Homo sapiens: one gene and its partner. The protein of the gene in region 1 interacts with the protein of each later gene in a biochemical or structural test. Each region holds a gene or a part of one and is shown on either strand. Other genes may lie near its edges. The genes, in order: TUBGCP2 and KIF14.

Region 1 (3,913 bases):
GTCCCACAGCCTAGAAGTAGCCACGTCAGTGTCCAGACTGCATGGGGCTCCATGGCGCGTGCCCTGCTGGCCTTGTGCTTGAACTGTAGTTACCGTGAGCACCTCCTGGGTCAAAAGCATGTGTGTGAGCAACTCAGCACCATGCCTTCTTATCGCTCTCCTTCCATTTTCGGAGATACCCTGCCTGTGACCAGTATTTGATGTTCATCTACAGATAAACTGTCTTCCATCACACAGGATTAGAATCTCGGTGTCGAGTCCCGTGCTAATAATCGTTAGTGAATTAGCATATTGTGGGAGTATGTGCTGAGTCTTCTGTACTCTATTGTAGGGACCAGCCCCACAGGGTCGGTGGGTTTTTCTCCTCGTGTGCGGAGATGAGAGATTGTAAAAATAAAGACGCAAGACAAAGAGATAAAAGAAAAGACAGCGGGCCCGGGGAACCACTACCACCAAGACGCAGAGACCGGTAGTGGCCCCGAATGCCTGGCTGCGCTGTTATTTATTGGATACAAAGCAAAAGGGGCAGGGTAAAGAGTGTGAGTCATCTCCAATGATTGATAAGGTCATGTGTGTCATGTGTCCACCAGACATGGGGCCCTTCCCTGTTACGTAGCCGAGGCGGAGAGAGAGAGGACAGCTTATGTCATTATTTCTTCTATGTTCTTTTCAGAAAGATCAAAGACTTTAATACTTTCACTAATTTTGCTACTGCTATCTAGAGGGCGGAGCCAGGTGTACGGGATGGAACATGAGAGCAGACCAGGAGTGTGACCGCTGAAGCACAGCATCACAGGGAGACAGTCAGGCCTCCGGATAACTGCGGGCGGGCCTGACTGATGTCAGGCCCTCCACAAGAGTTGGAGGCGTAGAGTCTTCTCTAAACTCTCCGGGGAAAGGGAGACTCCCTTTCCCGGTCTGCTAAGTAGCGGGTGTTTTTCCTTGACACTGACACTACCGCTAGACCAAGGTCCGCTTGGCAAGGGGCATCTTCCCAGACGCTGGCATCACCGCTAGACCAAGGAGCCCTCTGGTGGCCCTGTCCGGGCATGACAGAAGGCTCACATTCTTGTCTTCTGGTCACTTCTCACTATGTCCCCTCAGCTCCTATCTCTGTATGGCCTGGTTTTTCCTAGGTTATGATTGTAGAGCAAGGATTATTATAATATTGGAATAAAGAGTAATTGCTACAAACTGATGATTAATGATATTCATATATAATCATATCTATGATCTAGATCTAGCATAACTCTTGTTGTTTTATATATTTTGTTACACTGGAACAGCTCGTGCCCTCGGTCTCTTGCCTCGGCACCTGGGTGGCTTGCCGCCCACACTCGATGTTTTGTTGAGCTCATCCTTGTCTCCCTGAAGCTGTCAGCAGAGTGGTTGTTTACCTTTTTTGGGTCATAGAGCCTTTGAGAATTTGTTGAAGGGTCATCTCCTCAGAAAATAAAAAGTTATTTTGCCCATAACTTTCAAGGGCTCATCTGTTACTGATTACTCATGGATACCGGCTTAAGAACCCTTGTGTAGATGAAATGTTTGTGAAGCATGTAAAGTTTGCTTATATTTGTTTTGTAATCTATAGCCAGTTGCCTTGCCTGTGTTTTTTGTTTTGTTTTGTTTTTTGTTGAGACAGGGTCTCCCTCTGTCGCCCAGGCTGGAGTGGCTCAAGCGATCCTCCCACCTCAGCCTCCCGAGTAGCTAAGACTACAGGCATATGCTACCATGCCCAGTTAATTTTTGTATTTTTTGTAGAGACAGAGTCTCACTGTGTTGCCCAGGCTGTCTTGACTCCTGGCCTCGAGTGACTCACCTGACTCAGCCTCCCAAAATGCTGGGATTCCAGGCGAGAGCCACTGCACACAGCCATGTGTTTGTCTTAATGGCCTTGTATCGGAACTCTTGGTGACAGAGGCTAATGAGCAGCCACTGGTGGGAGAGTAGGGGCGGCGCTCACCCTGCCCCCTGACCCAGGGGTGGGCTCACCCTACACCCTGACCCCACGCAGTGTTCTGCTGCCCACTTGGGTGTCTGTGACGCCTTCGATCTCATATGTGTTATATGTCTCCTGGTGAGCCCCTGGGGCAGCTGGAGCTGCAGTGGAACTTCACCTAGCTCAAACGTGTAGGGAACGTGTAGAAGTCCTACCAGAAGCGTCTCTGTCGGTAGCCACGCTTGGGCAAGAAAAGGAGATGTCACGGGTACCAGAGTGAAAAAGTAACGCAGAGCCGGCCAAGTGAATGGAGCTGCGGCTGAGCACCGCGGGCTCTGAGAACCAGTGTGGGCCTCTCCGGTAGAAGCTGGGATGTTACTGTGTGTGCCGGTAGCTGGCACAGTGTCAATGGCTTGGGCCTGCACAGAGCTCCCTGTGTAGACCCCACAGGCCTCACGTCTGGGACCAGAAAGCTCTGTCCCCAAGCCGAGGCGAGCAGCAGAGCATTCCCTGCTGGCCCAGACCCATGTGTGGAGGGAGGTGCAGGGGAAAGGGAACCTGGGTCTCAGGCCCCATTCATGCTGCCCACGGGGCTGGCTCCCGGAGCTGCGGAGGCCGCCTGGAAGCTGGAGGCAGGTGAATCCCAGGCCCACCCAGAGGACCCTCTGAGAGGCTGCTGGGGTGTCGGGGAGGGGCCCTAATCCCAGGCCCATGCAGAGGACCCTCTGAGAGGCTGCTGGAGTTCAGGGAGGGGCCCTAATCCCAGTCCCGTCCAGAGGACCCTCTGAGAGGCTGCTGGGGTGTTGGGCAGGGGCCCTAATCCCAGGCCCATGCAGAGGACCCTCTGAGAGGCTGCTGGGCTGTTGGGGGAGGGGCCCTAGGCCAGGCAGGCCAGGTGATAACTTGGTTTGTCAAAGCCTGACATTGGCCAGTCTTGAGTGTTTAAAAAAATGTTTTTTATTTCTACAGTTTGAATTTTATGAATAGCTGTCTTCTTACCTATAGGAGAACATATTGTGATGTTCGTGCCTCAGAGCTAAAACTATGAGTGAATTTCGGATTCACCATGACGTCAATGAACTGCTTAGCCTGCTGCGTGTCCACGGAGGAGATGGGGCTGAGGTCTACATTGACCTGCTTCAAAAGAACAGGACCCCGTACGTCACTACCACTGTCTCTGCTCACAGTGCCAAGGTGAGCACTGCCCTTGGTGTAGCGCTGTGCAGGGTGAGCACTGTTCCTGGGTCAGGGTGGTGCAGGGTGAGCCCACCCCTGGGTCAGGGTGCAGGGTGAGCGCCGTTCCTGGGTCAGGGTGGTACAGGGTGAGCACCATTCCTGGGTGAGGGTGCAGGGTGAGCCCACCCCTGGGTCAGGGTGCAGGATGAACACTGTTCCTGGATCAGGATGGTGCAGGGTGAACCCACCCCTCAGTCCATGTGCAGGATGAGCGTCGTCCCTGGGTCAGGGTGCATGATGAGCACCGCCCCTGGGTCAGGGTGCAGGGTGAGCGCCACCTCTGGTGCAGGGGGCAGGGTGAGCGCCACCTCTGGTGCAGGGTGCAGGGTGAGCGCCACCTCTGGTGCAGGGTGCAGGGTGAGCGCCACCTCTGGTGCAGGGCTGTGCGGGGTGCAGGGTGAGCGCCACCCCGGGGTCAGGATGGTGCAGGGTGAGCACTGCCCCTGGTGCAGGGCTGTGTACCGTGCAAGATGCAGGGTGAGTGCCCGTTCCTGGGTGGCCTCAATGGTACCGGCAACGATGGCAGACAGCACTTGGTCTGTGTGTGTGTTCAGCTCTGATTCTCCTGACTCCCCCCAGCAGCTCCTGTGATTCACCCCACTGTGCAGATGAGTAAATGGAGGCCTATGGAGAAAGCTGGGCCTAGAACCCTCCCTCTTCCCCACTCTGTCCCCTGCAGCCATGAGGTGGGAGAGTCCTGACATGTGCATTCCTGTGGATAAAAAGGGAGGGACTGGG
Region 2 (3,913 bases), on another chromosome or scaffold:
GGGAGGCTGAGGCAGGAGAATCGCTTGAACCTGGGAGACGGACGTTGCGGTGAGCCAAGATCAAGCCATTGCACTCCAGCCTGGGCAACTAGAGCGAAACTCCGTCTCAAAAAAAAAAAATTTAATCTTAAGAGATCATTAATTAGCATGAGTTAATCATTTTTCTTTAAATCTTACATAATCCAGAAAGCTTCAAACGTGCCAGTTTTACTTCGACTCTTTCCACGTTTTCTTTCTGTTTGTCTCCCTCTGGTGGATTTAAAAAAATACTTGCTTTATTCTATTTATGAGCTTATTTTCCTTTTAAAATTGAAAAAGGTCTTTATGTCTTCTGTCATGTTTAATATATATTTCCAGTTACATTTTATTTTTATTATTTTGAATTATACATATGTTTAAAATTTTTATGTATTTGAGTTTGTCTGTCTTTTCTTTGACATATCTTGCTTTGTTTCTAAATTGAATGATCATTTTCCCATAGATGTGATAACTTTTTTTTTTTTTTTTCTTGAGACGGAGTTTCTCTCTTGTCCCCCAGGCTGGAGTGCAATGGCGCGATCTCGGCTCACTGCAACCTCCGCCTACCCGGTTCACGTGATTCTCCTGCCTCAGCCTCCTGAGTAACGGGGATTACAGGGGCCCGCCACCACGGCTGCCTAATTTTTGTATTTTTAGGAGAGACGGGGTTTCACCATGTTAGCCAGGCTGGTTTTAAACTCCTGACTGCAAGTGATCCGCCTGCCTTGGTCTCCCAAAGTGCTAAGATTACAGGCGTGAGCCACCGCACCTGGCCCTGATAAATATTATATTCTATTTTCTGATAGTTTCCTTATACCTTAATTTTAATTGAGTTTTAGAATGATTTTTAGAGTAAGATTTAGAATGAGTACTTTATCATCTGTTTGGTTGGTCTATATAATTGGAGCTACTTATGGTCTCTATCTCAGTGAATACTTCTTCAATATCTCTGTACTTTTTGCCTGTTTAAAAAACATTGTTGCTTTACAATATCTATTTATCTAGTCTTTCTCATTTATTTGGTTATTTTTCAGAATGTATTTGTAATATTTTTTCAGATTTCAAAATCTTATGGGGGCTGGGCGGCGCAGTGGCTCACGCCTGGCAGCTTACAAGGTCAGGAATTCGAGACCAGCCTGGCCAATATGGTGAAACCCCGTCTCTACTAAAAATACAAAAATTAGCTGGGCGTGGTGGTGCGCGCCTGTAATCCCAGCTACTCCAGAGGCTGAGGCAGGAGAATCGCTTGAACCAGGGAGGCGGAGGTTGCAGGGGCCACTGCACTCCAGCCTGGGCTGCAGAGCGAGACTCCGTCTCAAAAAAGAAAAAAAAAATTAAAAAAAGGGAACTTTTACTGAAACGGAGTTACATTGTACGGCGGCAAGAACCTTCAAGTTCTAGTTATGCCACTGCTAATTGTCTGATCTTTCACAAGTTTAACTCTAAACCTCAGTTCCTCATCTGTAAACGAGGGATAACATTAATATTTATCTCACAAGATTTTCAGGACTGTTTAAAAATTCATATAAGACATTTAGCATATTTCCTACGTGAACGCCTTGCATAGGAAACACTAGAAAAGTTAATTATTATGATTAACTTGGGGGCAAATATCCATTTACAATGTGAAGTCTTCGATGTAATGGCTTCTTTTAGATTAAAGACCGACAAGAGTGTCACTGTCATGCTTTTCGTTTGACACCCACTTCAACGAGGGGCCCGCTGCGCCCGCGACCGCCGCCCCTTCCTCTGGTCGGATTTAAAGGGGGCCAAGCTCCACGCTTTAGCAGAACCCGAGGAGGGGAGGGAGCGTTGCCTGGGAGATGAGGGTGGGGCGAGTCCAGCATTCAGAGACGGCTACCGGAGCCCAACCACCGGCACTTCCGGGGGGCGGGTGGAAGCAAAGGCGCGGCACCCGACGCGACGCCCAGCAGCCAATCAGAAGGCGGGGCGCCCATTCAAATTGCGGCCTTCTGGGGAGCCGGCGCTGGAGGTGGTGAGTGGCGTGGGGACTGTGTCGAGGGGGTCCCCAAGGTGCCGGACCCTGCGGAGGGGCGAAGTTTCGGCACTGGGGAGGGCGTGCGGACGCTTTCCCTACAGGCGACCACTGCTCTGCGGGCGGGTGGTCTTAGCTCCAGTCCCCCATTCAGTTCCTCAGCATTCCAGGTCGGCGGCGAAGGGGTCCCCGAACGAAGGGCGCAAGGCAGCGTCTCTGCTGGGACCGGGAAGCCGGACTTCAGGGCCTCTCGGCCCGTGGGCTTCTCCCCGAGTCTCCCCGAGTCGGTTGGCATTAAGAGGTAATTCTTAGTCATAGCCCCTGGTAATGACTAGCAGAGAAAGAACAGAATCACCGGATGTTTTGGTTTGGATTGTGCTTATTTTCCTTGTATTCCTTCCAGTCCTCTTTAAAATCTGATGGCGAAACTCCTCAAACAGAAACCGTATTGATTTGTGCAAATCGCAAATGGTTTTTAGTTGCAAGAGAATTTCCAGAATCTTCTTTTTGCCTTTAAATTCATTTCATAACAGGAAAATTCTGTATTTTGAGTTGAAACGTTGATGGGAGATGCTTATAAGCTGACGAATTTTTTTTGTAATGACTGTTATTTATGTAAAAATTTAAAAGCCTCATTTAAAAATGAACTTCCATTAATTTGTTCCTCGCTAGCAATAATCTTTGCAATAGTTTGAACCAGTGTCATTTTACAGGTTAGAACCCGGCATGCAAATTTAAAGTCTTGTTTACATCCTTGTAAGGAGTTGGATACAAAGCTGACTAAAAGCCAGGTCTCTTAGCTGTCACTGCTGTTCCCTTTCTTTAAAACGTTAATACCTGATAGATATTGTTGCTGTATATTTACATACACCTCTGTCTAATTTGTTGTCTTACTGCTAAAGGGCAGGTTGTCTGTTTATCTAATCTTGCATGGTTTTTCTCAACACAATTAATTTACAGTACTTATCGTACTTACTGCCTGTGGTACTTGGGAATAATCTGCCTCGTGACACCAATCAATTCAATCTTCTCTATAGGCATTCCTGTATTCAACATACATGGGCCGGACGCGGTGGCTCACGCCTGTAATCCCAGCACTTTGGGAGGCCGAGGCGGGCGGATCACAAGGTCAAGATATCGAGACCATCCTGGCCAACATGGTGAAACCCCGTCTCTACTAAAAATACAAAAATTAGCTGGGCATGGTGGTGGGCGCCTGTAGTCCCAGCTACTTGGGAGGCTAAGGCAGGAGATTTGCTTGAATACAGGAGGAGGAGGTTGCAGCAAGCCAAGGTCGTGCCACTGCACTCCAGCCTGGTGACAGAGCAAGACTCCATCTCAAAAAAAATATTTTTATAAAAATAAAATAAAATAAACCTTCTTATGGAACATTGGCAAAAAAAAAAAATACGTGTAGCAGGTATTTATAAAAATACTTTGCTCCACACTCTGATTTAGGTGCTAGGGTTTCCTTTAGTCCTTCCCATTCCCCACACTGGAAGTACTTGAAAATCTATGTTGGCATGCACTTTTTACATCTTCTAAGTCACTTGACACATTTGGCCTGATATATGGCTTATCAGTATATTTCTTCTAGACTAAAGAAATGGGAATTGTATTCTTGTCTTTGAAGTCTACAGTATCTATCAGAGGGCCTGGCACTAATGGAAACTTAGTCAATATTTGTTGAATAATGATGGTAAGTTCTCTGAGAGACTTGCCTGAAGTTGCTTGGAAGCAGTATCTGAGCTGCAGATTGTGATCTATTGTAATGTATGCCTCTGGGAATTTACTTACACAATGGGATGTTCTCTCTATATTTTTAAAGCTTGTTTGTAGTCTGTGTGATCTAAATCTTTTTTTTTTCTTTTAGTTTAGCAGATACTTTCAGAAATGGAT

Evidence for each region.
Region 2: the proteins of TUBGCP2 (region 1) and KIF14 interact in a test that uses a peptide from one of them, tested with the Homo sapiens proteins (one study listed by BioGRID).

What each region holds. Positions count from the first base shown.
Region 1 is NC_000010.11:133,302,012-133,305,924, reverse strand, and holds part of TUBGCP2 (gamma-tubulin complex component 2), read left to right. Parts: intron 1-2,944; 5' UTR 2,945-2,983; coding exon 2,984-3,133; intron 3,134-3,913. UniProt on the Homo sapiens protein: Component of the gamma-tubulin ring complex (gTuRC) which mediates microtubule nucleation.
Region 2 is NC_000001.11:200,618,813-200,622,725, reverse strand, and holds the start of KIF14 (kinesin-like protein KIF14), read left to right. Parts: upstream 1-1,974; 5' UTR 1,975-2,315; exon of another isoform or gene 2,316-3,887; 5' UTR 3,888-3,913. UniProt on the Homo sapiens protein: Microtubule motor protein that binds to microtubules with high affinity through each tubulin heterodimer and has an ATPase activity. Plays a role in many processes like cell division, cytokinesis and also in cell proliferation and apoptosis.